Linked DNA regions of Homo sapiens: region 2 is linked to region 1. Evidence: fine-mapped QTL for protein levels in blood plasma. Region 1 holds a variant in brackets. A gene starts in the other region. All regions are shown on their forward strands.

Evidence for each region. PIP is the chance, under the fine-mapping model, that this variant and not a neighbour inherited with it causes the effect. The UK Biobank Pharma Proteomics Project read protein levels with antibody pairs (Olink). The fine-mapping took linkage between variants from a reference panel, not from the people measured, so its PIPs are less certain.
Region 2: CBLIF starts here. The variant in region 1 is fine-mapped to the plasma level of the CBLIF protein (UK Biobank, PIP above 0.99).

The regions. Positions count from the first base shown.
Region 1 is chr6:118,703,570-118,719,429 of GRCh38, forward strand. It overlaps a transcript of CEP85L not described here. Among named protein-coding and RNA genes, the nearest start is that of CEP85L, 60 kb to the left of the region's middle. RefSeq lists silencers at 2,317-2,611, 6,509-6,558. The variant T/A (reference allele first, on the strand shown) is at 10,505.
Region 2 is chr11:59,838,901-59,854,760 of GRCh38, forward strand. It overlaps CBLIF (cobalamin binding intrinsic factor), which reads right to left and starts at 6,599. Exons shown (of 9, transcript NM_005142.3): 1 at 6,475-6,599; 2 at 4,979-5,155; 3 at 4,128-4,241; 4 at 3,543-3,683; 5 at 2,243-2,424. The coding sequence starts at 6,553. It overlaps TCN1 (transcobalamin 1), which reads right to left. Exons shown (of 9, transcript NM_001062.4): 7 at 15,752-15,860; 8 at 14,303-14,421; 9 at 13,908-14,136. The coding sequence ends at 14,075.

The DNA of each region.
Region 1 (15,860 bases):
ATAGCATATAATCTCTATGGGAGTGAAATATAAGTATGTAACTTCACGCATCCCTGTAAAATATAATGCGATGGCTCAGAGCAGGGACTGGGAAAATGCTATTCCTCTCCTGTTTACTGCAAACGCTTTATGAGCCCCTACCATATGCTCTTGTATTATATCTGGTAGGTACTTTTGGGTGAGGGTTGTGTGGGGAAATGAAAGTGAAGTTGGGGAGGTGAAAGCTCCATTAATAAAATAAAATCCTTAACCAATTAAAATTTTAAAAATATATTTAATGTTATCTGTATCTCATTATTAATATGTACATCATATTCTAATGACCCATGTATTATTAGATAATACATGTATATAATTCATGAATAAAAATGTATCTCTGTTGAGCAAATGCTCAAAAATTTTTTATACGCATATGTGAATGATCAAAAAATATAGAGGATGGGCTAGGAAACATGGTAGCCCTTTTAAGAGACAAATATAGAAGCAAACTATACCTGCCATGTAATATAAATAAGCACACACATGCCTACCAGATATCATGTAACTGGCATGACAAAGTCACTGGGAAAAGGCATACCTATCTGTAATTATTGACCTACTCTGGGCTATGACATTATACCAAACTCTTTGGAGGAATCAAAGATGAAATTAGAAGTTTTCTTGACTAACATCCAATTCTTTTGGAATTTCCCTTTGGGGGCATGTTATTTTAGGGTCATTCTAAGGGTTCATGCCTATAATAAAATGTTATAAAAATATCCCTGGAGCTACCCTGCCCACTGGCTCATTTTCTGAGTGGACTCAACAGACTGGTGGCCTGGGGTTTGTTCTGGGCCCCTTGCCTCAGGTGCACCCTGGTGTGACCTCACACACCACAAAACAGCCTAGTGTTCTGTTTTGTTTTGCTTTTTTGTTTTGAGACAAAGTCTTGCACTGTCGCCCAGGTTGGAGTGCAGTGGCTTGATCTCTGCTCACTGCATCCTCCGCCTCCTGGGTTTTCAAGTGATTGTCCTGCCTCAGCCTTCCGAGTAGCTGGGATTGCAGGCACCCGCCACCATGCCCGGCTAATTTTTGTATTTTTAGTAGAGACAGGGTTTCACCACGTTGGCCAGGCTGGTCTCAAACTCCTGACTTCAAGTGATCCTCCTGCCTCGGCCTCCCACAGTGCTGGGATTACAGGCTTGAGCCACCACGCCTGGCCAAAAGAGCCTAGTTTTAAGCTAAGAGTTCATGGCGCTGGGGCATTTTATTCCTCCATTTGCCTAGCAGCTTCCACTGCAGATGTTTTCTTACCCTTCTGGCTATTTTCACCTTTCTTTCAGTGGCTTTTTTTTCCATTTTTAAAAATTCACAGGCTTCCTGTTTCTAAGTATTTACCACATTTCTGTTCATGCTTTTTCCCTGACTTTTATTTTTCACCCCTTCTTAGCCCTCTCTCCCAACCACATCTGTTTTACTCCCTTTCATTTTTTCCCCATTCCTTTATTCCCTGCTGTCCTGTTTTTCTTTGTTCAATTCAGAACATCAGCCGGAAGCTTCCCTGTTGCTAAGTAACCACATCACCCACACACACCCTTTTCCATTTTCAACTTATTTCTTCTGTTTTAATAAACTCATGGGGCCGAACAGTCTCTAAAAGAAAACGAGAGGTGCTGCTGTCTTCTCTTCATGCAGCAGAGATGCATACCCTCTCATATCCTGCCTTTTCTTATTAGATTTTGGCTTCTTGTTTTATTGATAATTTGCCCCAGACTGTGAGATAACACTAAATAAGCACAAAATATCTTTTTGGGCTTGGACAATTTGCAGAAGGGAGGAAGAGATATAATTTCTGCAGAAGGAACAATGAAAATGTTTAAAATATAGTTACAAGGCATGGCATGGGCTCATTGAAGGGTGTTTGCCTTGACCCCGGAACCAAATCCAGCCCTCCCTAGTAAAAGGTTTCCATTAGGGATCAAGTTAGCTAGCAAGTCCCTCTTAACATTGTTGAGTTGTGAGGAAGCTACTAATGGCATGGTAAGTGTGATTTGCACAAAATGAAGGATAAAACAATACAAGAAATCATTATGTGGTTTTCCAAATCTCAATCCTTTTCCAGACATCAATCTGACATGGCACTTGTGCCAAAGGCATAATTGGAGGTGTGTGAGCCCTTCTCACAATATGCTCTTGAGGGATTCCAAGTCTTCTGGCACATTTTAATAATTTAATGGGAATGGTAACTCCATATGTCCAAACACTAGGGCAGAGTAACAGAGATACCAGGAGATTTGAAAAAAAATCTTTTCACCCTTGCAATACCATAAATAATTTCCTTGCCTGGTGTGAATTCTTTCTCTGACCTCTTGCATTTATGCAATGCCTGGGAGGCCTTTCCTGCTAAGCCCGCCCCCACATTGTTGCTCTCAGCTTTTTGCCCACAGTGAGCACTGTGCTAATTGGGTAGATTTGGGAGCTGCTTCTTAAGAAGTATCACGGCCGTCTATGTAGGTGTGTGTCCCAGCTCCTCTGGTAGTGCTCTGTGCTCTCTGTCAGGGAAGGGCTCGTATCCAGCATGTAATGAATACTCAATAAGTTGCCTTAAATTTAACCACAGAACACAGACACTCTGACAAGGGGATTATTTTTAGTTTCATTTTCTAGATAGAAGAACAGTGGTTTTCTTCATATTGAAGTCTAAGTTCATCAATCAAAGTGCCAGAAATGAAGCTGATGCATTTCCATCACTATCCTGAAATGCAGATGGAGCATTTCAGTAGAGGGAAATTTCAAAAGCTTTATTTGTCAAGACCTGTTGATATTCTGAAAGCAGAAACCCTGTAAGACTAAAACCTACTCTAAGGTATTCTAAGAATGCCTAGCCAGAACTGGAATTGGCAAGCTTTTTCTTTCTAGAATCTAGCCCCTTTGAGATGTTAGGTCTTCTGAGAGTTTCAGAAAGTTTTAACATAATTTCAACTTTTATCTTAGGGTAACCTCAACTGATGAAACATACATTTGAACCTCCTGGAATTTTTATTTTATGTGCCACTTACTTTAAATTATACAAAACCTTCACTGTCTTCCAGTATTCACTTCTCTTTTAACTTTCTTTTCTCAACTTGAGATATCAGGAAACGCCACCATGTCATATTTTCTTTTCTTACATTTTTGAACATCTAATTCCTTTTTTCCTTTCCGTCCTCCTCATCAATGTGGTCTAGTCTTATAGGGAACTTTTCTCTCCAATCACAATCCCCTCCTCTTCCACTTCTCGCTTAGCTACTCTTCCCACACCCCAAAAAGACTCTCGCTTTGTGATTCCAGTCCTGGAATTCTTTCCCTATTAGTGTCCTCTTCACTTCACTGCTTCCCTACCCCATGGAGCTCTCATGAGCCATCCCTTTAACCATTCTCTTCAGTATCTCAGTTCCCTTGCCCCTCATTGGCCTGGCAAATCCCCAAACTTCAATGAGTTCATCTTCATATCTCCCTGTCTGAGCCCAGGCTATCTCTCCTGGAGAGAGATCACAACTCTGCCATGGATGCCATTCCAACTCTGTGACCCCAAGTACTGGTCCCTCCAGGCTGGTCCCAGCAGTCCTCCTGGGTTTCCTTCTCATATTCCTCCTCATCTGCTTTTTTTTTTTTTTTCTTTTTTGAGACAGGCTCTTACTCTGTCACCCAGACTGAGCTCATTGGAGCCTCAGCTCATTGCAGCCTCAACTTCCCAGGCTCAGATGATCCTCTCACCACCTCAGCCTCCCCAGTAGCTGGGACTACAGGTGTGTGCCACCATGCCCAGCTAATTTTTGTATTTTTTGTAGAGATAAAATTTTGCCATGTTGCCCAGGATGGAATGAAACTCCTGGGCTCAAGCAATCCTCCCGCCTCGGCCTCCCAAAGTGCTGGGATTATAGCCATGAGCCACTGCACCTGGCCTTACCTCATTCTTTTTAGCTCCTCATTCAATTCTACAGTGAGGAAGCACCAACACTTACTAAACTACTTCCTTTTTATTAAACTTCATTTTCTGTTATTACAAAGAATGTGCTAATGAGATGCTTATGCATTTATTTTTGTTTATATATCTAAGTATTTCTGTAGGATACATAGAAATTTTTAGGTAAAGTGGCTTGAAATTTTTAGGTATAGGAGTTTTATACTTTTTGCTTGTAAATATATTTAAACATGTGCAAACTTTTATGTATTAAAATAGGCAAAATACGTAAAACCTTAATTCACGGAACAGCAAATCTGAACCAATGAACATATATAAAGATACTCAAGCTCACTTATAGCCAGGAAAATAAAAATTAAACATTGCAATATCACTTTATAGCTACTAAACTGTCAAAAATCTAAAAGACCAATACAACCTATTACTGGTAGAAATATGGGAGAAAGAGTTGCTTTTTTGGGGGGGGGACGGGGGGGAAACAATCTGGCAGCATCTACTAAAATTTAAAAAACATATATAGACTTCAACCGACAAACCTACTAACTCTTAGAGTTCAATCCTATAAAATAGAAGGCCAAAAGGTCGGAATATATAGACAAAGATATCTTTGGGAATATTCATTTCTTCCTGCAAATATTTATTAAGTTCGGACTATATTGCCATCACTTCACAGATGAACAAGGCACAGGCCCTGCCCTTAAGTTACTCACAGCCTGTCTGGAGACAGATGAGTACACAAGCAACTGGAGTTCATGAGCGAGGTGTCTAGAAGCAATCTGGGCCTGGGATGGAAGGCTGCAAAGACTTCACTGAAAAGCAAATTTGCAAGACTGTAAAATACAACATGCTTCCAAGGCCTTGGATTAAGTTGTGTGGTCCAGGATAGCTGAACAGAGTAAAGATACCTGGATATAGGGAAAAGATAACCCATAAACTTTTCACGAAACAAAATTGTGTTAATAAAAGTCACAGGTACTCTAGTTACTCTAGTGGCAGTGGAGACAGAATATGAGATACACAATGAAAAAAGAACTTACTTTTTAGGAAGAGAATTAAAAGAGTCTATTATTAAATGGTAGCCAAAATGCTGTTTTTCTCGTATACCTGGCACAGAACCTACTCTTGAAAGCTATGTGTTGAATCAATAAAGTATGACATGGGAACAGCATATAAAAAGGTTTAGCTCAGATAAACTTGAATTCAGTCAATAATCTCACCTATTTAAGATTTTTCCTTGAATAGACTTTTTTCCTTCCTTCCTTCCTCCCTCCCTTTTCCCTACCATTTTTCAGGCGAAAGAAAGACTGGTCAAATAGGGGTTCTAAATCCTGTTAACCTCACTTTAACCCTGTTATTTCACCATTTAATGACAAGGCAAAACCATCAGCTCTTAAATCATGAACTTTAAATGCCAAAAACAGTGTTGAGAAATTTTTAAAATATGAGTGTTATATAGAAAAAGAATGACTAACACTAAAAGCAAACAAAACAGGCAGTTCATTAGAAACCGGTAATATAGAATAGCCCCGATTTTGTACCTAACAGATCTCGGAAAGGGACTGACAGCCCACAGAGAAACAAGAGCAGCACATCAAGACGAAGGCACATTTTCTTCCCAACTGCTGTCATTTAAGGAAAACCCATGAGCGTGAGTTCTCTTATGGGAGGGTAGCGACCTCCATGAAATCATGAGAACATTCCCCCAGTCTAAGTGCTGCCTGGCTTTACTCCCACATCAACAGCAAAACAACTGCATAGCAACCTACATTTGCCCATTTCCTCACTCATTAATGTTTGTCCAGAGGAAACACCCCTGCCAGTCCCTGTCTGCTTTGTAAAGTATGTCAAACAGGAGTTGAGTGTGTACGCCAGATTGGGAAGTGACACATGCTGGCATTTCTCAGCGCATGCGGCTCCCCACTCGGCTTTCTGGAGCTCTGCCTTTTGGCGACAGAGCAGCTAGAGCTCCTCTCCCCTCCCCCATTTCCTCTCATAAAGATAACCAGTAACAACAATTGGCGTGTGTGTGTGTGTGTGTGTGTGTGAGAGAGAGAGAGAGAGAGAGAGAGAGCGCTCCCAGTTGGCCAAGTACCCTTTACATCCAGTGACCTGTTTTACGAATAATAGGAAAGACTTTCCAGCTTATTTTCTGCATTCTCAGGAGTACGCAGAGTTCACAGTAAATGCAGAGTAACAGTCATTTCTAAAACAAAGATAAAACACTCCAAATGCTGCTCTGCAAAGACCATTTGCCATCTGTTCCTTTCCCCCTGACAGGGCTGCTTATCAGGACTCCAGCAAGGACACCATCATAGCAATCTAGATCCGAGTACTTTTCCTCTGTTGCAGGGGGTGTTTCCTTGAACTTTCCCATCTGCTTCTAAGCAAGAGGTATAAAATATTATCTATAAAATAAGACTAGCAAATGACTCACAGTGAATAAAAATAAATCAGGGTGTAGTTTGTCATCATCTTTAAGAGAAAAAAAAAGGAAAATGCTCCACAATTGGAGAAACAACTCACTTTTTCAAACCTCCTCAAGGAACGTCTTCAAATGATAGGCAGGAAATGGGTATGTGGGGGTTAAGTTAAGCTCAAGTAAACTCAAGTGGCAAGAGCATGATCCAGCCCCATCATACATATTCATAAGAGGCAACCTGAGCTTCCGTGTAAAACCACAGTGTGACTGTATTTCCTGCACACACTTTGCATCCCACACAGCCCGGACACACTGCAGCACTGGAGGGGCACAATGCCTTGCTTTAAAACATGGCTCAGAAGAACCATAATTGTTCATTGACAACTTAACCTACACATTGACTGGATGTTCTCCATAGGCCTTATGACAGCTCAAGAAGTATCTGTCAGGATGCAGTTTGAAAGACATCATTGTGCAAGTGTGAATCTCAAGGCTTCGGCTGCTAAGAAGCAAAAATGGAATATGGTTATTTGTTTTCAATAAAGCATTGGGCATTTATTACTAATACTCTAATGGAGAAACAGGTCAGTCTAACCAACATGGGAAGATGATAACACTCTATATACTGCTTCTCTTCTCAACAGACTTTCTACAACAAAATACCCATAGTTTCAGCTGCCAGAAAATATAAACCAAAGGCCTTGTTTCAGTGGGATTTGGGGTGGCATCGATAGTATAGTGGTAAACATAACTGCTTTTCAGTAGAATTTGGGAAGGCATGTACTGGGTTTTTCTTCATTCACTCAACAAATATTTATTAAGTGCCACGATGTGCCAAGTACTGCCCTGGGCACTTGGAAAAACCACAATGAACAAAACACAAAAGTCCCTGCATCATGAAGGCTATGATCGCGGAGTGTTTCAGACTGCCATGCTCCTCCAGAGAGAAAGAACACCTTATCATGTGCCTGTCATTAAAGGGCCTGGACCTTTTTCTTCAATTTCTTTCAAATGCCCTCGATGACTCTGTCAATGAAGTTTGTATGTGTGCCCATATGTGCTGTTTGAAAGAAGGAAGAGAGAGGGAAAGAAAGCAACACTGAAACACGATTCAAAAAGTGATAGAAAGATTTACCTTTATGATTGGGAAAGCCACAAAGACATGAGTACTGGGAAACACAAAAGAACACTAGTGCAGATGGAAAAATCTATTTGTTTTATTAGGAAGATGGAAAATATTATCAAGATGTCAACTCTTGGCCAGGCACAGTGGTTCACACCTGTAATCCAGCACTTTGGGAGCCCAAGGCAGATGTATCATCTGAGGTCAGGAGTTCGAGACCAGCCTGACCAACATGGTGAAACCCTGTCTCTACTAAAAAAAAAATACAAAAAAATTAGCGGGGGGGTTTGGTGGCACATGCCTGTAATCACAGCTACTTGGGAGGCTGAGGCAGGAGAATCACTTGAACCTGGGAGGCAGAGGTTGCTGTGAGCTGAGATCGCGCCATTGCACTCCAGCCTGGGCAACGAGGGCGAAACTCTGTTTCAAAAATGAAAAAAGATGTCAACTCTCATGATTTAAGCTATAAATTTGATATATGACAAAAAAATTCATAATGGTCTTGTGAACTAAGTTGATTCAAAGCACAAAGAAAAATCTGAGGGGGAAAAGTCTAATGAGGGAGGAACTAGCTCTACCAGATGCTGAAATATAAAGCTTTGATAACTGAAAGTGTATGCTAACTCATAAATAGACAAAACGGTGGAACTGAATGAAACACCGGGAAATAATTCCAAATCCATTTGGGAATTAAATATCTGATCAACATGCCACATTGCCCATAGGTCTGTTGACCTCAGCAGCATTGTCAGTCATGCAGTGTGGTCCTTCACCTCCTTCTCATTAGGAGGCTTGGAGCTAACCAGAGGTTGTGGGTTCAGGAGTAAGAAAGAACACTGGGCTTAGATGGCTAGACACCAGAGCACCAATCTTGCTCTACCACCTGTAACTTGGTGACCTTGTGTTGAGCTTTGGTTTCATTGTCTATAATATGAGGATAATGAAATCCATTGCCAAGCTTTATTGTGGGGATAAGTTTATATAATATATGAATCTACCTAACAAATATCAACTATTTAACAAAATAAACATATTCTAATTGAATAGCTTAACGGGCATCTTAACTCCAGGTTGACAGTTTCACAATTTGTCTGTCTGCAGACAGAAATTGCTTTTTAAAAATCTCAAATCCTTTTTTTTTTTTTTTTGCCATTCAACATGTAAATAAGATTTAGAAAAAAGAATTATTTTAAAGCTCAGATTTAGAGTCAATGATTTCCTTACAGAGGAAAGTCTTTATAAATAAGATCAAGTTGTTGAGTGGGTGGATGAAATCCAGCAAGAGAAGTTTCAGTTACATAGCACAGGAAAGGATCTTCTTTTTTTTTTTTTTTTTTGAGACGGAGTCTCACTCTGTTGCCCGGGCTGGAGTGCAGTGGCATGGTCTCAGCTCACTGCAAGCTCCGCCTCCCGGGTTCACGCCATTCTCCTGCCTCAGCCTCCCGAGTAGCTGAGACTACAGGCGCCTGCCACCACGCCCAGCTAATTTTTTTGTGTTTTTAGTAGAGATGGGGTTTCACCATGTTAGCCAGGATGGTCTCGATCTCCTGACCTCGTGATCCGCCCGCCTCGGCCTCCCAAAGTGTTGGGATTACAGGCGTGAGCCACCGCGCCCAGCCCAGGAAAGGATCTTTTAACTTCTGTGTTTTAAAGGAAGATGTGGAGCTTTTTAAAGATGACGCTGCACTAAGCATGAGCTGATGGAAACCTGTCCTGTGTGTAGAGAGCACCCAAGGTTCGGGTGTTGTGCCAAAATGGAGACCTTACTCTTGGACAAAAGAAGCTTGAACAATTTATGGTGAGGGTAGAAGTACAAACAAAATTCCATGTAATTTTTTAATTTCCACCTTTGGTTATATTGTACAATTCAGTGCCTAAGGGATCAAAGGATGTTGAAGAGAGTTTTGGGAAATCACATATACTCTTGGGAAACTTCATGACAAAGGGCAATCTTGGGCAGTGTTGGAAAGGGACGAAGTGGATCACTTGGTGGAAAGTGGCAGGCAGAAGAGTATGTGGATGCCTCAGAAGTGGATGTGGTTAAAGGATGGAACAATGAAGGGTTTGATGGCTGCAATAAGGCGTACAAGACAATGAGATGAGTAATAAGCTGACAGAATGCTTGCTGAATAATCCTGATTTAAATTTGTCAGGCAAGTGATGAAAAGAATGTTTGCTGCTGGCCAGGATGGTCTGACCGAGAAAGCTAGACACAAGAGACAAATAAGGCTATTTCCATTGTCTAACTAACAATGCTTAGGTCCAAGCTGGTCTGAACCTGTGAGAACAGAGACAGTGCACAGCTTTGAAAATCCTGTAGGACAAGGAATCATGGAATTGGTGATTTTTCTGGACAAAATGATAGAGGAAAAGGTTTAACAAGGTTAGGATCATAGAAAGCTGACAGGAGGATGGAGCCATTGTCAACAAAGAGAACTTCAGACCTGCTAAGCGTTTGTAAGGAGCACAAGGAGAGAAAATAAACCCAATTTTGGCTGCATTTGGCTGTGGATGACAACCAGCATAACAACCCAATCTCCATCAGAAACGGAATCAAGACTTTAAATATAATAAATTCAGAATTCTTAGCAAAAAGAATATTGTGCTGTTTCTTTTGTTATGGGGCTAAAATTGTTCCCATTTATGATAGGCACAAAATATACTTATGAAAGTCATGCTTATCACTGACCTACATCTTCTGTAAGGAAAATGTATGTTACAGACACCAAGAAGAAGATCTCACCTCCCACCTTCTCTGTGATAGAGAAAATAGCAGAGGAGCACATTTTTGACAATCTTGCTAACAAGGGGAAACATTTCATGCAGTATCATCAGCTCCACAATCTGTCTTACTCCCAAGTCCACCAGCTGCTAAAATAATGAATTTTCTTTAGGTCATCATTTTGGTCTTTTCTTGGATACTGGTCATTGAAAAGGTGAGATGTTATTAGGTCATTGTGTGGGCTCCCAGATGGATGTCAGAGATGGGGCCATAGCTAATTGTGATATGAATATAGGA[T/A]TTACATAATCAATGCCTATGTCACAATGTCCCGTAAGAAAATCAACATCATTATTTTATCATTCACACCTCATTTTTTATAAATGGATTAATTATTCACCCAATTCACCAGGTTTGGCTTTGAACAATCCTCAGGTTTCCCTTTCCCCCAGGACATGTCCTTAAATAAATTGAAGCATTTTTGTCACAATGTATTATAGTTTTAAACATATTTAGCAGCAGAACTTTTATTTTTCTAATGAGAACCTCAAGTTATTAAACAGTCAATATTCATTAAGGTCTTTCTCACCTTATTTGAATTTTCAGGGATTGATGGAAATTATGTCATTCTTTGTGAACTTCTGAAAAGCCTATGGAAATGAAGGCAAGTCCAAAAGAGATCCCAGCATCTTCTGAGCACCCACAGAAGAGTAGAGCTGCCCAATGTGACTACATATAAGAGCCAATGTTATATGCTGTTTGATATGCTTTTAGAAACATTAACCACACCTTGTATTACATAAAAGCAAAGGCTTTAGAGTCGGACAGGCCTGGGTCTGAATCTTGCTGTATGATCTTCAGCAGGTTACTTAGCCTCTCCAAGACTCAGTTGAAACTTCTGTGAAATCGATATAATAATACAGATCTTAAAATGTTGTTATGAGGGGAAAACGATGTGATATGTGTAAAGAACTAGCACAATGTCTAATGTATAGTAAGTGCTCAAAAATGGTAGGTAATAATTATACTATTGGAAATAATAATAATTACCTTACCTTATAGGGTGTAATCACCAGAGTGTGTAAGACAGAACTGCAGAGTTAGTAATGACTAACTGCTAGTTTAGTTAATGAGCTAACGGCCAGTTCATACCTGGCTAGCGTGCCACGAAATGGAATTTCTAACTCTTCTATCATAAATAGCATCAGCAAGTAAGACACTGAGGAGTCAAAATGCCACCTGGGTATGTATTAGTCCATTCTCACACTACTATAAAGAACTGCCAGAGACTGGATAATCTATAAAGGAAATAGGTTTAATTGACTCACAATTCCACCTGGCTTGGGAGGCCTCAGGAAACTTACAATCATGGCAGAAGGTGAAGGGGAAGCAAGTACTTTCTTCACATGGTGCCAGGAGAGAGAACTAGCAAGAGCAGGGAAAACTGCCTTATAAAACCGTCAAATCTCATGAAAACTCACTCACTATCATGAGAACAGCATGGGGGAACTGCCCGCACCCTCCCCCACCCCGCCCCATGATTCAATTACCTCCCACCAGGTCCCTCCCTCTTTATGTGGGGATTATAGGGATTACAATTCAAAATGAGATTTGGGTGGGGACACAGCCAAACCATATGAGGATATAAGGCTCTTCAACGCATACTTTTAGCAGAGTATCTATGATTTTAGTGAGTAGACCTTGACAGCTAAATAAAGCTATCTTCCTTCTGTCAGGATCCTGGGAACTTCTTCTATAGATACTCATTGTCTTATTTTAAGAACTGCCAGAGAAACAGATTCCACAACTTCCCTTAATAACCTATTTCTGTGCTTAGTAATTGTTCCTCTTAGTAAATCTTCTGAGCTAATCTGAATCCTTTGTGCTCTAATTTAAGGCCAGTCATCTCACATTTAATTCAGATCTTATTGATACCTGTATCACTATTGAACCAAATTACAACTAGAAATATTGACAAATGTGTTATCACGGAGATTTCAGCATGAGCATATGCATTTGACAATCAACTGTGATGAGTTAACATGCCAGAGAGTGGTATTGTTCATGTAATCAGAGACACATTAGCAGTGTTCTCTTAAAGGCACAGCCCCAGTTCATCTTTGACAATTGTCACACACTGACTTGTGTGACATGAATCAGAAATAAGCAGTATTTTAAAAGCCAGCAAAATGAAAGGAACAACATCTAAGTTGTTTTCGGCAGAGTTTTCTGCTGCTCTGGCCAAGATGCATCCCAGAGATTTGGTTTTCAGGGTGTTGGCTCATTCTCGTTATTTATTTTATTTTATTTTATTTTACTTTACTTTACATTTTATTTTATTTTATTTTATTTTATTTTATTTTATTTTATTTTATTTTATTTTATTTATTTTGGAGCAGAGTCTCACTCTGTCACCCAGGCTGGAGTACAGTGGTGTGAGCTCGGCTCACTGCAACCTCTGCCTCCCAGGTTCAAGTGATTCTCCTGCCTTAGCCTCCCGAGTAGCTGGGATTACAGGTGCCTGCCACTACGCCCGGCTAATTTTTGTATTTTTAGTAGAGATGGGGTTTCACCATATTGGCCAGGCTGGTCTCCAACTCCCGACCTCAGGTGATCCTCTCACCTTGGCCTCCCGAAGTGCTGGGATTGCAGGTGTGAGCCACCACGCCCAGCCAAGCTCATTCTCTTTAAAAGGTACCACTTCCTGGTCTGGTTTTTGGGATGGTTCGGCTTTTTAAGTCATGTCCAGAATTAATCAATAGCAAAAAAACCCAGCCGGGAGCGGTGGCTCACGCCTGTAATCCCAGCACTTTGGGAGGCCAAGGTGGGTGGATCACAAGGTCAGGAGATTGAGACCATCCTGGCTTACACGGTGAAACCCCATCTCTACTAAAAATAAAAAAAAATTAGCCGGGTGTGGTGGCACATGCTTGTAGTCCCAGCTACTCGGGAGGCTGAGGCAGGAAAATAGCTTGAACCCGGGAGGCGGAGATTGCAGTGAGCCGAGATCGTGCCACTGCGCTCCAGCCTGGGCAACAGAGCTGACTTGAAGAAAAACAGAAAACAACAACAATAACAAAAAACAATAAATCAGCCGGGCGCAGTGGCTCGATCCTGTAATCCCATCACCCTGGGAGTCCGAGGCGGGTGGATCATGAGGTCAGGAGATCGAGACCATCCTGGCCAACATGGTGAAACCTCGTCTCTACTAAAAATACAAAAATTAGCTGGGTGTGATGGCATGCAGCTGTAATTCCAGCTACTTGGGAGGCAGAGGCAGGAGAATCGCTTGAACCCGGGAGGCAGAGATTGCAGTGAGCCGAGATCACGCCACTGCACTCCAGCCTGGTGACAGAATGAGACTGTCTATAAATAAATAAATAAATAAATAAATAAATCCCTTGAAGCCCACATCCAGGTGAAAGTGACGTTTCTTTCTTTATCTTCATGTGTCAGAGAAGTACCAGTCCAAATACCACTGCGTTCAGGAGATTTGAAAAGCAGTGCTAAAAAGGGACTCAAGCGGAGCCATCGCAGGTGCCCGGCCATCTGCCCAGCAAAGCCAGGCGTGCCGCCAAAGACCCTGCAGCCTTTCTGTGTAGACTAGGTCGGAGTTCCAGAAGTGTTTTTTGAACATGATCCCTTGGGTACTGTCGCCCACCACAAAGAAAAAGTGGTTAAAACAAAATGTTCAGAGGCCGGGCGCGGTGGCTCACGCCTGAAATCCCAGCACTTTGGGAGGCTGAGGCGGGTGGATCACGAGGTCAGGAGATTGAGACCTTCCTGGCTAACAGTGAAACCCCGTCTTTACTAAATAAAATACAAAAAATTAGCCAGGCGTGGTGGCAGGCGCCTGTAGTCCCAGCTACTCAGGAGGCTGAGGCAGGAGAATGGCGTGAACCCGGGAGGCGGAGCTTGCAGTGAGCCAAGATCGCGCCACTGCACTCCAGCCTGGGAGACAGAGCGAGACTCCGTCTCAAAAAAAAAAAAAAAAGTTCAGAAAACATAGTATACAGAGGTGGACTGACCATAAACTGAGGAGGTATAAGATTTATTCATATAGGTCCCATTCAAAGACTTACACCTAAGGTATATTCATGATTTGTGTTCTCAGAATCACATATTCCCGGACCGCTCTGAAACCCACTTTCCTCTTCTGTAGAACAGCACTGAATATACCTCGCCTGCACCTAGTGTTCCTTATCTTAAAAGGGCCACCAATCCCAGCACTTTGGGAGGCAGAGGTGGGAGGATCATTTGAGCCCAGGAATTTAAGACCAGCCTGGGCAACATGGCAAGACCTCATCTCATTTTTTTAAAAAAGGGAGAGGGCACCAAAATCAGCTTCGGGACCCCCAAATCTGGATCCCACACCTGACTTTGGGAGTTTGCTTATTAATCTCATTATGTCCTAAAGTAAAGACTTCTGCCTAATTTCATGTAACCTAATGTTTCCTCTTGAGTGGTAGTAGGATAGCACTCTCTCTTTCCTAGTGAGCAGTCTGTCACACAGGAGGAAGATGACAGGTGACAGAGGTCACAGTAGTCCTCATATCACCCAGCTTCTCCCAGCCCCCACATGTCCGCGTGCCTTTCCCCCAGCCCCTGCCTCTCTAGATATTCTCTTCTTAAGGACATTTCATCTGGCAGGTGAGCAGGTCTCAAAGTTCCCGTTTCAGTTCCCCAGACATCCTTTGGAAGTGAGTGTCCTTTCCAGAGCTTTTATGTCACCTCCTTGTCACTCTCAATTAGAATCTGCTGGGCATTGCCTGAGCTCCCAGAAAGAACTGGGTCCTTTAGGACATAAAGAGAAATGGAAAAGGAAACTAGGAAGAAGAGCAGAGGTGGGTAAGCGACATTGTATTTATGCCAAGGGAACACAAAATGGGTGTGAGTATAACACAGAACCAGGTGTTCATAAATTTTTGTATGGGAGTGAATTGGCATTTTTTTCTTAGCATTCAAGTTTTAGGAGAAGAAAGGAGACCCTAAGCTTCTTGTGAAGAAAGGACTGCCTTCTACCCGCCAGGCCTGTTTTGGATTCCTGAAAGAGAAGAAAGGTTGCAGGGTTGGACCTGGTTAGTACTTGGATGGGAGAGAGTAGAAAGGCTTGTTCTTGGGCTTCCCACCTCCCACCAAATGTATCCTACGTACCTCACCTCTACGGAGTGACCGTCCAAACCTTAGAGTAGGGACTTGGCGAGAGGTGGGGGCATAGAAGCCTGTGGCATAAATGGCAAGTACGGTCTCTCTGTGTGATCAGCATGGGTCAGTCTCCTCCAAACATATGCTTTGGAAGTCCCTGTTGTGGTGAAAAGAGCCCTGCATGGAGTTCAGAGGGCATCTTGAGTCACAGTCCTGTCACTTACTGATTCAAAACATGTGATGGCTGTGCCATGATATTTTCTATTCCACGTACTTTTATTTCTTTTTTTTCTTACTGATCCTGGCCATTTCCTGGACTCCTCTGAGACCCAGTTTCTCCCTGTTCATAACAGGATCGTGACACCTGTTCATTCCCTGTGCTCAATTGTTGTTGCAGCTGAGTTCGTGATGAGTTGAGAGTCTGGGTCAAGGACATGGGGTGTTCAGCAGGCATTAAACATGAACCTCCCAGGGGGGCTGAGCATTGTCAGTCCACCTCCCCGCCCATCGC
Region 2 (15,860 bases), not on the chromosome of region 1:
TGCATTGGTGCAATCTTGGCTCACTGCAACCTCCGTCTCCCGGGTTCAAGTGATTCTCCTGCCTCAGCCTCCTGAGCAGCTGGGATTATAGGTGCCTGCCAGCACACCAGGCTAATTTTTGTATTTTTAGTAGAGATGGGGTTTCACCATATTGGCCAGGCTGGTCTTGAACTCCTGACCCCAAGTGATCTGCCCGCCTCGTCCTCCCAAAGTGCTGGGATTACAGGTGTGAGCCATCACGCCTGGCCTATCAGATCCCTTTTCAAGATAAGCGCCTATCAGAGGAAACTTGAAAGCAATAGGATATTCATGGAAGAAAGATGAGAAGTTCTGGAACAGAGGAAATGCCTCATGAGCGTCTTTGGGTAGGGAAGAGTGTGGCCTGGGCCACTGGAAGTGTACTGACATCTTGGAAGAAGGTGAACAAAGGCTGAAAAGGAACTTTACTAGCATCACTGCTCTGCTGAGACAGATCTTGAACAATTGTTAAGCATTACATTATGCATGCATTTTTTTGCATACCACATTTTATTTAACCTAATTGCAACCTTATTATTATGGGGAAAATAAAATCTGGGGAAATTCAATATTTGTCTGAGATGGTGGCAGGTGTGGGAGTCAAACCTAAATTGTGATAGTTCCAGAGCCCTTTGATTTTCTATATCAGAATATTTTAGATTAGGAAAATATTATATATTAGACACCTATTGATTCCAGATTTCAGGATGCCTAAATAAGTTCCAGATAGAGGCAGTAAAAAGGGTAGGGAGAGATTATGTATTCTGACAAGAAATCCACATGGCCTGTGGTATTTGGATGTAGACAGGGTCCTGCCTTTTGATAGGAAAAGCTCTAATTCCCAGGTACAGCTTATCAAAGTGTACTTGGCAGGTGATAAAATCCAAACAGAATTCACAAACCAAGTTAGCAAAAGTAAACACTTCACTGTCTGGTGATAAATTGAAGCAAGGTTATTTTTAGAGAGTCACACATAAAAAAAAAAAATCCCCAAACCATCTTTTATATCTCTTCCAGACTGCCTTTTTCTTTCCAAAAAGCTTCTAGACCAGAGCACTGGGAATGTTCTTGTAAAATTCAGCCATGGAAAAAACAGGGTTTTGTTCTATGACAAAGTCTCCTTGACTGTGACATAGAAATGAACTCTATTTTTATTAGTCACTTCTATATGTGGTCCATTGAAGTGGAAATTTTTTTTTTTTTGCTCTTATGTTTAACATGAACCAATTCTTAGGCTGCTTATATCCTTTTCTAATTTTTAATGTATGAAATCTCAATACTAGTCTCCATTGTTTTCCCCAGGAGACAATTTCTTTCTAATAGTCCGCAACTATGTTAGGTTTAGGGCTGGCATCACCATTCCATGATTCTCCCTTTAGTGGGCTTTCTGAGTTGAAGAGTCCCTGGTCCTATTAATCCCCATAGGACATTTTGAGACACTGGAGCTCAAACTTCTTAGTTGGGATTAGAGGATTCAGCCACAGATGGTTGCTAGTTTCTGATTCTAGTTGGTTATTTCTGCCCACCACCATTGGTGCATCTGTCTTCTATGGAGGCTGCTGCCCTAATCAACTAGGGTAGGGTGGGTTGTTGGATTTGGAACTATGAATACCAAACACATCTTACAGAATCCAAGCCTGGGAATGCATGCTGTGAAAGCACAGAATTGAATATGGACTTGGCTGACAGATAGATCTGCTTTACCATTTACTATGGGTTTTTGTGAGGCTGGGTCAACTTTAGGTTATTTTCCTTAATCATTTTGAGTATAAACTTGCTATTTTTAGATCAAGGTAAAACACTGAAAAAGAACACTTGGCTGGTAAGATTGCATCAGAAAATTGTATATTTTTAGAGGGCCTGCTTTAATATTCTTATTATTTATACATCAAAATTGTAATAGTCTGTAACTATTACAAATAAACTGATCATTATTAATAATAAATTAATATATTTCTTGATTTATTTGTTTCATTTTTTTTCCCAAGAAAGAGAAACAAGTTCATATAGATTTGTTTTCACACTTTACATAGGAGGTAGGGAGGAATTAACACTTACCTGCATTTTACCAGTAGAGAAACTGAGGCCCAGGCACCACAAAGAATATATCTCAGGTCATACTAGCTGGACTTTCACAGAGATGTTAGTAGAAGCCTGGCCTCTTGATTCTGCAATCCAGGCTTATTGGCAGGAACCCAACCAAGAGCATCCAGCACGTGTTTACCTGCATGGCGAGGCCAGTACTGTAGATGTCTCCAATGATGCCATTATCTTTGATCTTCATGCTGATTTTCTCCACAATATCCTTTAGTACCTGACCAAACAGGGATCTGTAACCTTCCTCTGAACCTACAGGGATCTTGTTGTACATACAGGTCAGAGCCAAGGTTGCCATTGCTCCTGTGTCTGTGAATGACAGAGGGTATAAGATCACCATAGTCACCATCACAGCAATATGAACAGCTAACATTTATTGTGTGCTTATTATATTCTGGCTCCATGATTTTATTTGCTCCTCAGAACAACCTGTGAAACAGTACCTGTAATCATCTCCATTTAAGAGACAAAAAATGGAGGCTCAGAAAAATTAAGTAAGCAGCAGGGCCAAATCTCCATTTGAAAGTTGCATAACTTCGTTAAGGGTGCTAGTGTTACTGACAACCAGAAGTAAATAAGTCCAAATTTTTGGAGGCAGAGATGCCCCAGAAATGTGTGAGGTCCCAGATGTGAAAGGGAGACCAGTCTGTTCTTAACCCCCAGGGAGGATCCTAGAGCAGTGGTTCACCTGTTTGTCTGACAGAAACTGAAACAAGAGAGGTTGCTGATGGGGCATGCATAAGGGAGTGAAAACCTGAGATAATACTATTGCTTAGAGAGTTGGCAGAGGAGAAAAGGTGATCATGAATGCGGGCTGTGACAGTGGCCCCCACAGAGAAGGATCATTATCCATAGAAGGGGACAGAAGGAGGACATGATGTTGTAGAGGGAAAAGCTTCTATTCACAAGCAGCCATATGCTTGCAGAACAAAGACGCAAGGTGGTCCCCGAGTTGCCATGAAGGGAAATATCACGAGTTAGGGTTCCGAGAGTAGCTGTTTAATGGAGAGAGGATATTTGGATGTAATGAGGAGAAGCATCGAAAAGAATGGAGTGTGGGAGCATCAGTAGTGATTAAAGAGAGGATGCAGAGGAGAACTGAAGCAAGACATTCATATTTAATTTGGGAAGAACTTCTGACTTGAATGGCATTACTATTGTTCCCAGCGGAGATTCTGTAGCTGCCAGACATATCAAGTATTATCAATTGTCCTTGTTTCTACATAATACTACCCCCTCTTCCTTCACTTACTCCTCAATTCACCTGCCCAACAAACATCTGGTAAATATCTCCCATCCACAGGCACGTTCACATCCTTAGCTCCTCCTCCATGGGACGCTCTCCTTTGTCACTTCCCTGCCAGCTCCACCATTCAGTTCACGATGCCTCTGATGTTCCCAGCTCGGGGTAGTGGTGACCTACTCACCTACATTGAAGGGAGAGGAGTTGGCCAGCAGGGTCTTGGCAAAGCGGACGGCTATCGGCAAGGTCGCCTCAGAGTTCTTCTGGCACAGTGCCAAGATCGCTAGACTGGGCCCATAGAAGGCTGATGCTTCAGCGTTGGGGCCTCCGAAGGGGATAGAGAACCTTCATCAGACTCACAGTCACCACGATGAGGACATTTGCAAAGAAGGAAAAGCCAAGCCTTTGAAAAGGAAATTGCTAGAAAACCTGCCCCCAAAGAGAGACACAGCATAGGCAAAGAGCAACTTCAGTGTTTTTCAAAAGAATGTCATCAGGCATCTGCAAAGAATAAAAGGGATGACTCTGTGTCTTTAGACAGGTGATGGCTGGACAAGCTTGTGTCCTTGGGATCATGACCTTTTCTAGTTCATTTTGGATTGGAAATGAATCTTTCTGGTCTGGATTATCAGAAGGACCAGAGTGAAGGATACATTGTCTCTTCCCTAACTTGCCTTTCTCTCCACCCCCACCCTTTTCCTTTCTGGGTTTAAAATTCTTAGGTAAAACCATATGCCTGACTCTTTTCTCCCTTCCAGTCAGGTCTTACTGGAAGGTGCCCAGTTCTCCATTTGTCTTTGTAGAATGGATACTTTATCCCCAGGGTCTCGGCAGGAGGAGGTGAGGGCCATGATGGTGAGGCCGAGCTGCCCAATGGTTAGATCTGCAGAGAAGAGAACACAACGGTTAGACAGAGACATCCTCAGGGGACAGCTCTCCAGGAGCCAGTGATGAGTTCTCTGCTTTTTATCTAGAGCATTTTGACTTTTTAATAATATGAGCAGTTCTTTGATCTGTCTTTCCAAAGAAAAAAATATGGAAGAATACGTAAGGGAATATTTAATCTAGTGGCCTCTGTGTAACTTGATGACTCTAGTATTTGGTATTTGAGAATCCCTGGTATTTGATTAGAAAAGCAGCAAAATACTCATATAGATTTATATACAGAAATTTACAGTTGCAAAATAATTTAAACTTTATCTAACTTGAGCCTGCAGGCAGCTCCTGGGAGATAGGCAGAACAGAGATTTTATTATTATTATCATTGCTATTAGTAGTAGTAGGGTTATTGTTACTACAATCATCTGCAAGGTGAGGCTGAGCAGTATCCAGTGACTTGTCTCAGATCCCAGAGTTATGACGTGGCAGAGCCAGAACCAGAAGGCTGCTCTTTCGACGTCTAGTCCAGAGCTCTCCCTGCTTTACTGACCTCCTCCATGAATGCTCTGACTTCACACATGTTTCTTTCCAGGTACCTTCCAGGTATGTAAGGAAAGGTGTTTGGGTAGTTTATTTACAGTCAGAGGCAGCATTGGGGTGGGAAGGACGCTGAGTTGGAATCTGGAGGTGGTATGTGATGTGTGAGATTCAGGGAGAGTGCGAGCGGCTCAGATGTCTCACCGTTGTTGTCGCTGGACATGAGCTGGTAAGTCAGGAGCTTCTGGGCCTTCAAGTTGTAGGCTCCGGCCAGATTCATGGCAATCAGGATGCTGGGGTTTGGGTAGGCTGATGAAGTCACCGAGTTCTCCATGAGTACTTGTATTCCATTGACCAAGGGCTCCTGTGCTGAGGGAACGGCTGAGAAGAGGAAAGCCATTTACTCACCTTCTAACCCTCATTCCTTCTCAAAAACATTATCCCCGTGTCTTTGATGCTTTTTCTTTCTTTCTTTTTTTTTTGAGACAGTGTTACTCTTGTTGCCCAGGCTAGAGTGCAATGGCACGATCTCGGCTCACTGCAAACTCTGCCTCCCAGGTTCAAGTGATTCTCCTGCCTCAGCTTCCTGAGTAGCTGGGATTACAGGTGTGCACCACCACGCCAGGCTAATTTTTGTATTTTTAGTAGAGATGGGGTTTCACCATGTTGGCCAGGGTAGTCTCGAATTTCTGACCTCAGGTAATCCACCCTTCTTGGCCTCCCAAAGTGCTGGGATTACAGGCGTGAGCCACCTCGCCTGGCCATCTTTGATGCCTTTTAGGAGAACACTTGATTAGCATTAGTGTCCTAAGTCACTAAAGAGAAATGGAGAAAATGGTGAGATTTTACTTTTGAGGACAATTAGTTTCTACATCTTCTCAAATAATCCATATCCTTAAGAAAGTGATTTTTAAATTTAGTAACTTCAAGCAATATGGCTCATGACATTTCTCATAGTTTCTATCACTTTCCTGGAAATCACTGATTTCCTTGCATTCATTTTTTTCCTTACTCTTTCATGAAGAGTATTAAAGATTTGGGATATAATTTATCCTCAGTGAGTACCAAAATCTCTCACTAGTATGTAGTGGTGTCTGGTCACAATAGCCACTGAGTGTCTGTCTTTGTACCATCAACCATTATTCCTGCAGTAGTACTTCCATCTCTATTATTTTTATTTATTGATTTTTTGAGACAGGGTGCTGCTGTGTCATCTAGGCTGGAGTGCAGTGGTGTGATTATAGCTCACTGCAGCCTCGACCTCCTGGGCTCAAGCGATTCTCCTACCTCAGCTTTCTGAGTAGCTGGGACCACAGGTGCATGCCACTGCGCCCAGCTAATTTTTTATTTTTATTTATTTATTTTTTTTGTAGAGATGGAGTCTCACCATGTTGCCCAGGCTGGTCTTGAACTCTTGGGCTCAAGCAATCCTCCTGCTTCAGTCTCCCAAAGTGCTGGGATTACAGGTGTGAGCCACTGCACCTGGCCCCATCTCTCTTAATAAAAAACATATAGACTTGTCTCTCAAAGAACTTATGCTATTAAGTCAGGAAGGATGAACAGCACACAATCACACTCAGACTTACCCATTTTGGAATTCCTATAGTGATTGCTATTTTCAACCACTCAGTGTCAGAGGTCACAGCCCCTTCCCCAGGGCAACTGCTTCCCTGACCTCCTTGGAAAAACATCATACTCACAGCATGAACTCTGGGTCTGGGTACTAGTCCCAGCTGTAGCCCAGAGAAGGCTCAGGAGGTAGAGGGCAAACCAGGCCATCTCACTCTCTCGTCTATGTCTCTCATCCACAGGTACCGCGATTTGCAAGTGGAATATTTCTTTACCTTCTCTTATATGTGCTTCCCTTTGTTAAATAATCTGTCCCCAACCCAGCCTCTCCTAACTGCCCCTGTGCTGACCTCTCCTTTCCTGATACAAGTAAGTAAATTTTCATTTGCTTATCTAAGTTTACCGACTATAGACCCTCCAAGGTGTCTGAAGGTGACTTCTAGGTTGCACAGTCATATGAGAAACCTGGGGCTGGGTATGCAGTGAAGGCAATGTTGAGAAAATGTCCTTTACCAAAGGCCTGGGTCAGACATCAGGAAGTTTGGATAATGTGCTAGTATCAACAAGACCTCTTCTAGCCCTTATTGTATCCAATCAGTTACCAGGCTGCTTTTTAGTAACTACTTCACTGGGATTTAGGCCATTCATAGGCATCAGCTCATTTTATGATCCTAGACACCTGCTTTACAACATGTCCTTTTAGGCTCTCAGGCAGGGATCTGCCAGGTGACATCTGGCTTTGTGAAATTAATGATGTCTACCTGGACCTGGATTCTAGCCTAGACTCTTTGAAGTTGTTTGACTTTAGGCAAGAAATGGACCTCGGTTTCCCAGAAATGGTTTTGTTTGATTTCTCTTTCCTTATCTGGAGATAAAAGCCATCTCAAACACCCAAAGCTTTCAGATATTATCTTTTAAAGTAAGTAATTAGAAAATGTGAGATCCATTAAGAATACATATTTCAGATGTGTAGCTACATTATAATGCAAATTATACTTCTTTATAAGGGAGAACTGAAAATGGTATGTTGAAATTATAAAGAAAGGAGTTTTGTTTGTTTTTTTCCTGCATGTAAAGTAGCTCATTTTAAGGGGATATTCTCCAGTGGCGCCCATCTTAGCATAAAAGTCAAAGCCCTTTTCATGACCTATAAGACCTTAGAAGATCTGGCTCCTGGTTTCCTTTCTGACCTCAGCTCCAGGCGTTTTCCCCTTTGCTCACACCGCTCCCATCACACAGAACTTCTTGTGCCCCTTGAACACATCAGCTACCTTTGCACATGATGTCCCCCTCAGCCCAGGACCCTCTTCTTTTAAATAGCCTCATGGTGGCTTCCTCACATCCTTCATGTCTCTGCTCAGAGGTAAGCTTTTAGAGACGCCTTCCCAGGCCACCCTACATAAGATCCTACATCCTCACCTCCACTGACACCCCTCATGCCCCTCGCCTGCTATAACTCATTGCCCTCTGTCGCACTAAGTGTGTGGTTGTTTATCGTTTGTTTATCTCCCTACTAGAATGTCTGCTCCACGAGGGAGGGGCTTTGTCTCTTTGGCTCACTGCTCTATCCTTAGCCCTTACAACACTACCTAGCTCACAGTAGAAATAAAATACTTTTTGAATGAGTGAATTAATGAGCAAATGTAAGACATGGGTAATAAAGCATTTTTTCCCCCTTGGGAAACATGGGTGAGTTTTGTGAGATGAGAGCACAGGGTACATACTGGGGTGTGCTGGACAACTTCTAACATGGCCCTGTGTTTTCACCTCCCGGTATTCATGCCTTGTGTAGTCCTCTTCCCTAGAGTGTGGGCTGGCCTGGGGCCACATTCTATTATAATGAATATAATGCAGCAAAGGTGATGGGATGTGGTTGCAAAAGACCGATTTCCCTCTTGCTTGCCTTCTCTCTCTTGCCCTTCCTGCTCTCATGAAGGCAGCTGCTAAGTGTGAGCTGCCTTATGGAGAAGCCCACATATGGCCCCTGAGAGTAGCCTCCAGCCGATATTCAGGGAGAAAAGAACCCTTCCCCAGTGAGCTTTGAGATGAAGGCAGCCCCAGCTGACATCTTGATTGCAGCCCTGGGAGAGACCCTCCTAAGCCAGAGGACCCATGTAAACCCTCCCTGGACTCCTGACCCACAGAAACTGTGGGATAATAAATGTTGTCTTAGGCCCCTAAGTTTTAAAGTCACTTGTTATGCAGCAATATATATCCAATACATGGTACATGGTGGAAGATGAGGCTGGAAAGACAGTTGGCATCTACTTGGTGGACAGCCTTGCATGCTGTGTGAAGGAGTAGGAGGCAGAATAATGGCACTGCCCACACACCGCCAAATGCCCATGCCCTAATCCCTGGAACTTGTGAACATGTTACGTGGGTTATATGGCCAGGAAGAATTAAAGATGCACATGGAATTAAGGTGGCTAATGAGCTGACTTTAAGAGAGGAAGGTTAGCTTGGATCATCTGGGTGGGCTCAATGTCATCACAGAGGTCCTTGTTAGTGGCAGAGGAAGGCAAGAGCGTTAGAATCAGAAAAGCAAATGTGATGTTAGAGGCAGAAGTCAGAATGATGCAATTGCTGGCTTTGTAGGTGGACAGGGGCCATGAGCCATGCAACGTGGGCAGCCTCCAGAAGCTGGAAAAGGCAAGGAAATGGATTCTTCTTCACAAGCTCTGTTACTAGGGGAGCCCTACGGAAATAGCTGGGAGGGCTTCTTATTTTCTTAAACTGTTGTTTTCCCTTAGCCTTTTTTTTTTTTTTAAGATTGTCCCTGTTCCTTTTTTTTCTTTTTTTTTTAATTATACTTTAAGTTTTAGGGTACATGTGCACAATGTGCAGGTTAGTTACATGTGTATACATGTGCCATGCTGGCGTGCTGCACCCGTTAACTCATCATTTAGCATTAGGTATATCTCCTAATGCTATCCCTCCCCCATCCCCCCACCCCACAACAGTCCCCAGAGTGTGATGTTCCCCTTCCTGTGTCCATGTGTTCTCATTGTTCAATTCCCATCTATGAGTGAGAACATGCGGTGTTTGGTTTTTTGTCCTTGCAATAGTTTACTGAGAATGATGATTTCCAATTTCATCCATGTGCCTACAAAGGACATGAACTCATCATTTTTTATGGCTGCATAGTATTCCATGGTGTATATGTGCCACATTTTCTTAATCCAGTCTATCATTGTTGGACACTTGGGTTGGTTCCAAGTCTTTGCTATTGTGAATAGTGCCACAATAAACATATGTGTGCATGTGTCTTTATAGCAGCATGATTTATAGTCCTTTGGGTATATACCCAGTAATGGGATGTCCCCTTAGCCTTTTTATCTATAGATGCCACTGCTTAAAGAGCTCCAGATGGCCCAGGATGCTTCAGGAGCTTCATGATCCCTTGCCAAATACCAGAGGAAGATAAGACCTGCACCAGACCGGTGCAAACCAGAACCGGCAACCCCTAGTTACTTTTAGATCATTAACATATCATTATAATACTAGATTCCTCTCCCTTAAAAGAAAATCGCTGCCATTTTGTGTACATGCGAGGTATGAAGAAGTATGTCTGGGGACTGCGCCTGCGTGTTTGGAACTCCACCCTCGGCCTGCTTACATACCTCCCTGCCCCATGTCTAACTCTTGAAAATTTCCCTGCTTCCCATTGCTTAAGGAGAATGCGCCTTTAGAGCGAGAGCTCCCCTTCTCCATTCCCTGGCCAGTGAATACGACCCAATTGCTTTTGTCCAATTGCATGTTCCTTCTTTGTGACCCATACAAAGTAGGGAAAGAACTTGGTTTACTGCTGCCACCTCTAGAAGGAACACAGCTCCTTCGACACCTTGATTTTAGCCCAGTGAGACTCTGACTTCCAGAACTGTGAGATGATAAATTTGTCTTAAATAACAAAATTAGTGGTAATCTGTTACAGCAACAATAAGAATCTAATACAGGATTATGAGTACAGTATGGTGCTGACTTTGCATTCCAGAGCCTGCTCCTGATCGTCCTGAGATGATCCACACACCCTTGGCCTGCCAGCTCTTTAACCACTCACTTCCTTGTATTATAAATTACCATTTACAACCAGGGCTGCTGCAAGATTGATCGTGACACAATTGTTGCAGTTAGTAAATAATTCCCAGAACAGGAACCACACAGGCCATACATTTCTTAACAGGGATATTTTGACAGTCCTTGGTTAACTATTGACTGGGATGATGTGTTCATTTATTTCCTTGTTTCTCCTGTGCCTAATATTTTGGTATCAAAGCACCTAGACTCTCTCTGGACATAAGTGAGGTTTATTTGTGGTGATTATTCTTTGCTGTGGCAGCAAAAGGAAGTTTCTCTCTTCAGACTCAGTTCAGGTTCTGTAATAGTCTCAAGCTGTAGGAGCTTCTTGTAAGGCAAGTGTGGCCAATTAGGTTTCTTATTTTTATTTTTATTTTTATGTTTTTCTGAGATGGAGTCTGGCTGTGTTGCCCAGGCTGGGGTACAATGGTGTGATCTCAGCTCACTGCAACCTCTGCCTCCCGGGTTCAAGTGATTCTCCTGCCTCAGCCTCCTGAGTAGCTGGGATTACAATTGCCTGCCAATATGCCCAGCTAATTTTTGTATTTTTAGTAGAGGTGGGGTTTCGCCATGTTGGCCAGGCTGGTCTCAAACTCTTAACCTCAGTTATCTGCCTGCCTTGGCCTCCCAAAGTACTGGGATTACAGGCATGAGCCACCACGCCTGTCCTCAGAACTAGGTTTCAAGGGCCGATGTTAGTGGAACCCTAAGGGAGTGTTATTTCATGTCTACTTCTGAGATTAAAGGCATTTATATCAGACAGCAATGTTACTTACTACATTATACTTTTTTTTTTTTTGAGACAGAGTCTAGCTCTGTTTCCCAGGCTGGAGTGCAGTGGCGCATTCTCGGCTCACTGCAGCCTCCGCCTCCCAGATTCAAGCGATTCTCCTGCCTTAGCCTCCCGAGTAGTTGGCACTACAGGCGCATGCCACCACACCTTGCTAATTTTTGCATTTTTAGTAGAGACGGGGTTTCACCATGTTGGCCAGGATAGTCTCGATCTCCTGACCTAGTGATCCACCTGCCTCAGCCTCCCAATGTGCTGGGATTACAGGCGTGAGCCACTGCGTCCGGCCTACATTATACTTTAAGACCTCTGGCTGGGAGAAACTAGGCTCTGTCTGTTAGAAATAAATGCTAGTAGTGCTAATTGCTAGTATGCAATTCTGACATTTTGCATATTTCTCACCTTAAACCAGTATCCTTCAATTTCACATAGCTTGTATAGGCTACAAACAGATCTGACGATTAACAGCACCAGGGATCCTGGAAGGGTAACATGGCTCCCAGCTTCTCTAATTTAGCTTTATTATTATTATTATTATTATTGTTATTATATTTTTAATTTTTGTGGGTACACAGTAGGTGTATATATTTTCTAACTTAGCTTTAAAGATGAGACACAGACCCAAGGGATAGAATCCATTTCTGTCCACTCATGAGGGTCATGTGTTACATCCAGTTAATGAAGACCAGGGCAGAGTTGAACCTGAGCATCGAGTATCAATAGCAGAAAGCAGTATGTTGGAAGAGGGTTCAATCTCTGACTGTGAAGCAGTGTCACTGGTGAAGGAGAGGAAGCTAGGATGATTGTGAAGAAAACACAGGAGAAATGAGGAAGACATTGTTAAAATAATTCACCTGGCTGGGCGTGGTGGCTCACGCCTGTAATCCCAGTGCTTTAGGAGGCCAAGGTGGGTGGATCACCTGAGGTTAAGAGTTCGAGACCAGCCTGGCCAACATGGAGAAACCCCACCTCTACTAAAAATACAAAATTAGCTGGGCATGGTGGTGCATGCCTGTAATCCCAGCTACTCAGGAGGCCAAGGCAGGAGAATCACTTGAACCCAGGAGGCGGAGGTTGCGATGAGCCGAGATCACACCATTGCACTCCAGCCTGGGCAACAAGAGCGAAACTCTGTCTAAAAAAAATAATAAAATAAATAATAATTCAACTAATTCTACCTGAAGGCATTTTTCTTTTAAAAATTACTTTATTTTAAACTTTAAGTTCAGGTATACATGTGCAGGTTTGTTGTGTAGGTAAACCCATGACATGGGGGTTTGTTTTACAGATTATTTCATCACCCAGGCATTAAGCCTAGTATCCATTCGTTATTTTTCCTGATCTTCGCCCTCCTCGCCACCCTCCACCCTCTCATAGGCCCCAGTGTGTGTTGTTCCCCTCTATGTGTCCATGTGTTCTCATCATTTAGTTCCCACTTATAAGTGAGAATATGCAGTTTCCTGTGTTAGTTTGCTAAGGATAATGGCCTCTGGCTCCATCCATGTTCCTGCAAAGGATATGATCTCATTTTTTATGGCTGCATAGTATTCCATAGTGTATATGTACTGTGTTTTCTTTAAAAGTCTATCATTGATGGACATTTAGGTTGATTCCATATTTTTGCTATTGTGAATAGTGCTGCAATACACATACACGCGGTTTATATTAGATTTAGATGTAGAATGATTTATAGTCCTTTGGGTATATACCCAGTAATGAGATTGCTGGGTTGAATGGTAGTTCTGTTTTTAGCTCTTTGAGCAATCTCCACACTGCTTTCCCCAGTGGTTGAACTAATTTACACTCCTACCAACAGTGTATGTGTTTCTTTTTCTCCATAACCTCACTAGCATCTGTTATTTTCTGACTTTTTAATAGTAGCCATTGTGACTGGTGTGGCATGGTGTCTCATTGTGGTTTTTATTTGCAGGAAATTACTTTAAATGGGTTACTTTACACTTTACATAAAGTACCTTTTGTCCTTTGGTATCTTAAGTGTCCTTCTAGTTTCTGACTGTACTGCATGTAGCCCAGGTACTCAGTATAAGTACAAGCTCATGCTGCCTTGATGTGATTCAACTTTTTTCCTTTAAGACGTGACTTCTTAGCATGACAAAAATTGATTAGAAAAATAAAAAAGGAAAAAAGTGAATTCTGTGGAAATGAACATGATAAGTGACTTTTTTGCATATGTATTTTGATGACATGAATATTGGGGTGATTTTATGGGGAAATAAAGGGAAAATAAATGTAAGAGAAGAATAAGTGGGACCCAAGGGAGACATCTGGAGGCAGGGGATGAGATTGTTTCTCAAACTACGGGCAGACCTTTTATGTATATGCCTCACGTTTCCCCCTTTCTTCTGAGCAACATGTTTTTTTTACCCACTACCTGTATGAAATCAGTGTGACCAATGGGCTCCTCTCTTGCATCTGGGCCTCAGAGAGCTCAGTCTTTCACAGACTTTCTGCTTGATCTCATTGGTTGTTGCTGCAACATTAGACCTAGAACCTTATCCCCATTTTACCCAGTTGCCCAATGCCACTGAGATAGTTAGTAGGAGAACCTTGAGTAGAACCCCGCTTATTAGACATGTGGTCTCATTTCTTTTCACTTCAGTTTTTCCTTAGGTGGACTTTCCTCTAATACATTTTAAAATCCTTTCAGAATGAACTAATTAGAACATGCTCTTTTTGTATAGTTGTTAATCTTTCAACAACTTTTATTGAACATGTAGAGAGAGAAGGGGAGGTTATTAACTCTCCTGCTCGTACTGGGATAAATGAAGAAGAAGGCATAAGGACAATAAACATGGAACTCCACTGCAAATGGATTTTATGCAGCTGAGGAAAGTTTGGGCTTATTAGTATTTGCTCCAGCGAACCTCCAAGTTTTCTCCATTGCGGACAACGTAACTACCAGCTCCTGAAAAGGAAGAAGAAAGAGAACTGGGTCAAATGATTTGGCCACTAAATCACCAAATAATGGATGTCATCTCTACTAACCCCTTGGCCCAATCCCCACAGAGGCTCACACCCCTCTCCATTTGGGCATTTTTAGCATGGGTCTTTTTGGCATGTCTCTCCCTTACCTTGGCTCAGTGGTTCGCCTCCACTCAGAAGTTCCCAGTAGGTTCTGTCATTATTGTTGGCACATAGGCCCTGAATACAGGTGATATAGGGCCCCCATGAGCGCTCCTCCATTGTGAAACTGTGGGTGACAGCAAGTAGGTTACTGGAACTTAGAATTGTCAAAGGAAACCAACAATAGGCATTTCTCAAACTTTAATGTACCTGAGAATCACTTGATGACATTATAAAAATGCAGATTTCCTGGCCCTATCCATAGATATTTTTATTTTTAGATATGAGCTGGGGATCAGGAATCTGCATGCTTTATAAACACTCCAGCTGATTCTAATGCAGGCACTCCACACTCCATGCTAAATTAGAGAAATGATGCTCATGGTTTCTGCTCTCCCCACCTGCCATGGTAGATAGGTTTCAGATAACAGCTTCAACCTTCCACCCCAAGATAGTAACTGCTAAAGATACTGATTCAGTAGAAGAACATATGATCCTCATGTGCTAGAGACACCATAAGTTACTGAGTTTTCCCTTAGAAAAGAGGAACAGGAAAGGATAATTTGATATTTCATATTGTGTTTATTAAAAAGTGACAGGTCAGTATCTGTTTTATATTCCGTAGTCATTTTTCTACCTCCCTTAAAGCCCTTGAGGGTAGCCTTTATAATGTATATTATATTATTATTCTGATTTTCTTTATAGCATCCTACACTGTGTTGTTAGATATGATAAATAACTGTCAACTAGAGTTAAGGAGCCAAATAAGTCATACTTTTCAGAGGCAAAGCCATTATTTTAATTTTAATACTTGACCTCCTTGACCAGTTACTTTAGTTTGGGGATCTATGAGTTTTCTGAAAGCGAGGGCAGGGAGAAGCTTCAGGGTATCTGTGAAACCCTCAGTTGAAATGCTAAATTTGGCAGTGGCTCATGCCTGTAATCCCAGCACTTTGGGAGGCTGAGGTGGGCAGATCTCTTGAGCCCAGGAATTCAAGACCAGCCTGTGCAACATAGTAAGATGCTGTCTGTAAAATAAATAAATAAACAAATGCCAATTTTTGTGTGTATGTTCATTTTTTTCCTGGATGAACATTCATTACATTCACTTGATTTTCAAAGGGGTCCGTGATTCAAAAAGAGTTAAGAACCACTGTTCTAGATCTCAAATGTTTGACTTTAGAAGTTACATTTATTGCAAGAATTTTACTGAAATAAGAGAGAGCCCTGAGATTCATTAATTTATTTAGCGAACATTAATTTACTACCTATTATGTGCAAGAAGATGAAATACCTCACCTCCTATTTTAAACTCCTGCTGTGAGATGTAGATGGACAGCAAAGCTACTGACCCAGAAGCATTTTAAATATACTTTGTATTTAGGTGCAAATGCATTCTTACTGCATCTTTAGAAATGACAGCAAACATCTTAACCTTAGGTTAGGTACAGACCTACCCAAATATAGTATCATTCATTTTCTGGGCTTTCTCCATCACACTGAGGAAGACAGAACCATTTAGCACAGTGACATTGGTGAAATATGTTTCATTGATTCTCACAGAGT